Regions from separate parts of the Homo sapiens genome. Here region 2 is linked to region 1. Evidence: fine-mapped QTL for protein levels in blood plasma. Region 1 holds a variant in brackets. A gene starts in the other region. All regions are shown on their forward strands.

Region 1 (2,922 bases):
CACTAGGGTCCAGTCACTGAATGAGGAGTGGAGAGATGTATACTAACAAATAAATAAACAAAAAGTGATGACAGGCTGAAAATCAGTGAGATTAATCATTATTGAGATATTTGATAGCAGGGCTATAGAGAAATATATAGAATTTTTCCAGTGCTATAATTCAAAGTCACGTCTAAGGGAAAGACCTGATTCTACCTTTAAAACATTCGAAGCTGGGAGTGGACTGAATCTAATAAAACCTGTGCAAAAGCCCAGGCACTTGCCAAATACAAATTAGATCAGTTCTGCCATCCACATCAGTAGTCTGACAGAGGAAGAGTCATGCCATTTTCTGGCCATTGTTTACCTCAGTGTTCCTGTTTTGTTAAAGTAACATCCATGATAAAATACAAATTTCAAGACATATGAAGAAGCGGGGAAATATAACCCATAGGGAAGAGGAAAAAAAATCAGAGTCAGTTACTGATAACGGTCATCAGTCACACGGTCCACATGTTAGAATTAAAATACACAAGTTTAAAAATAACTATGATAAATATGTTACAAGATCTACTGGAAAATATGGACAATATTGAGAGCAGATGAGAAATAGTAAAGAACTGAAACTCTAAAAAAGAACAAATGAAAATGTTAGAATGAAAAAGTGCAGTATCAGAAATAGAGAGTTTATTATGTTCGGCTTCAAAACAGTCTGAACACAAGAGAATAAGTTATTTGTGACCTTGAAAATAGGTGGATAGATAGTGTCCAATTTCTAACATAAAGAAAAAAAAAAGAAAAACCTGACACCAGAGAATCTGATATCTGTGGAACAGTACAATATGTCTAATTAAGACTCTCTTCTTTATTGCTGGCCTACAGGAATTTAATAGTTTCATTTTAAAGTATTGTTTGGGGTTCTTAAGTGTTTTAGATCTGTGGGTTCATGTTTTATATTAATTTATGATTTAGAATAAATGTTTTATCTGAAATTGCCCTTAGAAGCCTAGAGCTAATATGAGTGCAGTGAGCCTTGGATGTAGAAAAATGGATTATTTTTAACTACAAAGCAATGTTGACAGGGATGCGTTTCATTTTTACACAAGCTTGTCTAAGAAGAGCCTTAATCATGAACCCCACATTTTGTAATCACATCTTTGGAACAGTGTGTTCTTGAAATATGTGCTTTTACATAATAATTTTCATGCATTTTATTTACCCGATTCATTAATTGTAGATTTTCCTTCTAGCTTCAGGAATACTTCATTCAAAGTTGTCATGGAAACACCATAATTCTCAATTCCTAGGTCAGGATAGCTATCAAGATCCTTGTAAA[G/T]TTCTAAAGAATACATATACAGCAGTGAATTAAAACAAGAATCACAAGTGAACTGAAGACAATTTTTCAAACTAATAAGCACAAATCTATGAAACTATACTTGTGATATGTCAAAAACATTTGAAAATTAACATTTCATAATAGATCATCTTATTCTGCAAATTCTATATATTATTTTCTATTTTACATCATGTGTTACAACCCAAATATTACTTTGTCAAACATTAATTTATATTCATTTGCATTTCTATTAAAGTTTAATCTTAGTTTTTTCTGACTTCCTTTTAAAATTTAATTAATTGTGAGACTCTGGGTTTTTCAACTCTAAGCCTAATTAATTGAAAAGTCTTTTCTAGAGAACAGATATAAATGGGAGCCATTTATGTTCTAACTGACAAAAGGAAAGGAATTAATTTTTTGAGAATTAATTGGATGGTGTAGAATCTTCTGTAGTTTAGAAAATATTTGTTAAAGAGAAGACATAGAATATAAACCATTAAAAAATTTTCTGTTTCTAACAATGGAAGAAAAAATTCACAAGACCTAACAGGCAGAGAATGTGGAACTGAATCAGGGAATTTTCCTGGAATTGTGACAGTGATTATTCGCTCTAGCAATTTTATATCTATTCATTCTTTAGTTCGTTCACCAAAATATACTTACGCATCTGTCATTGTTCATGAAGCAGTGAACAGTGCCCCTGCCTGCATGGATTTGAATTACAGTGGTTAAATCAAGCTTAAATAAAAACCTAATTCTAATACTAGGGTGATTACAGAAGTCCTGAGGCTTCCATCTGGAGCTCCTGCTTGGGCAAAAGGATAGGTTAAAAGCTTTTTGTCTTGACTAGAATACCTCATACAGAAAGGTAGAAAAGAAGTAAGATTTAAGCTAATAATGAGTATTATGCATCATTCTTCATTCCACCTAAAACGTCTACAAATTTTCTTTAAATTATAATTACTGTTAAAAAGTACTAATCAGAATTTGCGTAACACTTTCCTGATGATTCTAAGGAATGCTTGTGTTGTCACCATAAAATGTGTATTTGAATGAATGTATATGTCTTTGTTAACCACATATACAGCAAGGTTAATTGTTTCAACCACTAATGTGGGCCCTTATAGTGCCCCATTGTTAAGGAACAAGTTCCCTGAACAACAAACATAGTTAGTAAACTTTTATGCGTTAGCCTGAAAAACCCAAAGTTATTGCAAAAGTCTCACCGAGACAGATAGCCACATCACAGGGCTGTTTAATGTAGTGCATAAGCCAGAGGTTTTCAACCATTTGGGTTTGTGTACATTTATGAATACTAGAATATTATGTTACACACTACTAGGGAAGAAGGACTAAAAGAAGCCCTCTAAAATGCCCAGGCATTACAATACAACTATTAGAATGTAATTCTATTTCCCACTATACAGAAAATAATTCAGTTATTGTACTATTCTTTTGATTATGTTTCAGTACCTGAGCATACTGTAAGACATTGATAAATGTTAGTTGTAATGATAATAATTATGATGATGATGACTATTATTCACATATTTTATTTCACAGTGTTCATGCACATTACCTGGAAATTTATTTGTTCTTTCTAAGGG
Region 2 (2,922 bases), not on the chromosome of region 1:
CGGCCACTAACAGCTGCAGCAAATGCTTGGTTCATTAGGAAACGTTACCCGGCAGAATTCCAAAGGCCTCGGTCTAACAGTGAGGTGGTTCCATCACAAGGAGATTCTCAACCTTGGCTGCACATTCAAATCACTTGGGGGAGAGTTTTAAAAGTCCACATTCCTGCGCTACTATGTTGGAGACATAGATGGAACGGTCTGGCGAGGGGCCTGGGCATCAGCATTTTTAGAGCTCCTTGTAGGTGATTCCTATGCAACTCCAGGGTCAAGTGCCACTCCGGATGAACTACCTCATCTACACTGCTCTGCAACAGACAGCCTCAAACCCACCCCCAAACACACGCTGAGACTCTGATGTGGTCGCAGCAGCTGTGAAAGTGCTAAGTGCCTCTCACGTAGTCTCTGTATATAAGTATATACACGTAGTCTCTGTATATGAGTAAAGGAAAGGGTATTACCTGTAGGGGTCTTTCACCTGTCACCCTCGGAAGAAGCTGATGAGAAAGGCGCACAGGGCCTGGAAGGGTTTCCAACAATGTTCCCAGGCCTTCTTCTTTGCTTCCTCATTCCCTCCGGGCCTGGGTCCAGGCTGGGTAGGTTTGGCTGTGGGTCGGGTGGTGGGTTTGGCTTTTCCCAGCTCTTCCATCGAGTCCTTTCCCAGCTGTGTTGCTTCTGTGAGTTTCACTGTGGCCTTGGGCCTCAGAGATGGCGTCCCAGCCTCAGGCTGCTGGTTGGGCTCTGGGCTGCCCTTGAGGCTGGAAGTCACCTGCTGCATATGGGCCTGGGGTCCAGCCTCCCTGCACACGGATGGCCTAAGCACCGGGGCCCCCTGGCACGCATGGTGAAGGCGCCTCAGCTCCTGCAGGGCTTGATTCCAGTAAGGTTTGGGGTCAGCAGCGAAAGCCTGGCACATGCTGGGCTGCCCCCTGTACTCACACCAGTAGGTCTGGTCTGTGTTGCGGCAGTCGACACGAAGCCAGACTTCTCCAGCACCTTGCCCCAAGCTGCTGGGACGCATAGTGCAGGAATCTCTCCCTCCAGTCTGGAAATGGAATTCCTCCCCAGTGCTTCCTTGCTTTTGCCTCGGGGCCTGACCCAAAGTCCCCAGGCAGGACAAGGTCACCAGCAGGAGGCAGGGGACGAACTTCATGGCGATACTCCGATAAACTTGCTTGCAACTCTGCACCAGGAGAGAGAACACAAGTGGGACGAGTCACCCTTTAAAGGGTGCTGCACAAAAGACTCTTTCTCTGCAAGGGTGGGGAGGATGTTTTGCAGCAAATGAGAAACATGCCCACAGACCTTAGACACGTAACACTTGGCAAGGGCAGAGCAGCCACCAGGGGCCGCCCACCACAAGCAAAGGGAATGGTTTTCCTGAGTGCCTCAGAGAGATCTGCCCCAGCCCTGTCACGCACAAAGCGCCACACACAGCTTTGGGGCTGAGGGTTTTACAGTTTTCCAACCACAGGGTGCTTGCTCTAAAATTGGCCCTTGTACGGGAACAGCCTTCTTTGTCAACATTTGGTATATGCCAAGGTGTGGCAGTGGTATTCTGGAAAGTGAGGTTTGCAGCTGGGAGTCTGGGCTGCCTCGAGGCTCCCTCCTGCTCCCTGGAATCCCCATCTTGGGGGACCATGGGTTTAGTTAATCCAAAGGAAGCCAGAATTTTATGAGCCTAAGTGTTATGAGATGGCCTAGCAAATGCAAAAAAGACTATGTGAGGTTGTGTGAGGATGTGTGTGCCAGAGGGACACAGAGACACTCCCCCTCCCACCCACCGAGCTGAGAGTCACCTGGTGTGGCCTCTGTGGGGCTGTCCCGCCATCACCGTGGCCACAGGCCACAGTGCTGCAATGTTCACTTCCCTTGTTATTGCATGCCTTACAATTGCACCAACTGAATGATGACGAGGAAGGCATGCAAATATATGTTCACAGTGGGATTCAGTCTATTTTAGACCATGAATTCTATTTCAAATTCAATTGAAATAACACAGTTTTAATTATATCACAGGAAAATATGATTTTAAATATTATTATTATTGTTCTACAATAGAAAAAAAATAAATTGAAAATAACTTTTGATTCTGTGTCAAGAATCATAGTTTGGTATGGTCATAACTGTCTTTTGATGACCCTTCCAGAGGGCACTGTGGAGTGGACTAAAGGTGGCAATTTGCTGTTAGGAATAGGGTTGACGGATGTTGGGGGACTAGTTTGAATGTGAGGGATTTATCTTGGCGATCCCACGTAGGGTAGTTGGTACCTGGCACAGCCTTCCTTCCACCTGGATATCCTGAGTCCTGAGAAGACCTAGTAGGGCTGGAACTAAAGCCAGGCTGAGCTTCGGCAGCCACTGTGTGTGTAGCAGTGAGAGCCTTCCAGAAGAGGGCATCACCCCAGGTGGGGAGCAGAGGAAGCTTCCAAGAAGTGGTGCCAAACCTTCAAGACAAGTCAGTCAATTTGTCAGGTTGAGAAAGGGTAAAGGGCAGGTGTTTTTTTTGTTTGTTTGTTTGTTTGTTTGTTTTGGCCTCATTCTGTCACCTAGACCGGATTGCACTGGTGTAATTATAGCTCACTGTAGCCTCCAACTCCTGGGCTCAATTACTTCTCCTGCCTCAGCCTCTCAAGTAACTGGGACTACAGGCATGGGCTGCCACACCCAGCTAAATTTTAAATTTAAAATTTTTAGGGACAGGGTCTCACTCTGTTGTCCAGGCCGATCTCACACTCCAGGCCTCAAGCAATCCTCCTGCTTCCTTGTCCTCTGGAGTCACTGGAATTACAGATGTGAACCACCACAACCAGCTAAAGGTAGGTTTTTTTTTTTTTTCACACAGTCTTACTTTGCCACCCAGGCTGGAGTGCAGTGGCACAATCTTGGCTCACTGCAACCTCCACCTCCCAGGTTCAAGCAATT

Which allele goes with the higher level. Alleles are on the strand shown, and positions count from the first base shown. The strength of an association depends on the size of the effect and on how common the allele is.
In carriers of allele G in region 1, the plasma level of the protein whose gene starts at base 1,196 in region 2 tends to be lower than with T alone (moderate association).

The links. PIP is the posterior inclusion probability: the model's chance that the variant is causal. Protein levels are from antibody-based Olink assays in UK Biobank. Linkage for the fine-mapping came from a reference panel and not from the study's own genotypes, which makes the PIPs less certain.
Region 2: it holds the start of FGFBP2, and the variant in region 1 is fine-mapped to the plasma level of the FGFBP2 protein (UK Biobank, PIP above 0.99).

The regions. Positions count from the first base shown.
Region 1 is chr17:68,904,846-68,907,767 of GRCh38, forward strand. ABCA8 (ATP binding cassette subfamily A member 8) reads right to left here. Exons shown (of 40, transcript NM_001288985.2): 18 at 2,895-2,922; 19 at 1,199-1,318. Among named protein-coding and RNA genes, the nearest start is that of ABCA8, 49 kb to the right of the region's middle. The variant G/T (reference allele first, on the strand shown) is at 1,316.
Region 2 is chr4:15,961,980-15,964,901 of GRCh38, forward strand. FGFBP2 (fibroblast growth factor binding protein 2) reads right to left here and starts at 1,196. Exons shown (of 2, transcript NM_031950.4): 1 at 459-1,196. The coding sequence starts at 1,150. The coding sequence ends at 479. RefSeq lists an enhancer at 1,226-2,067.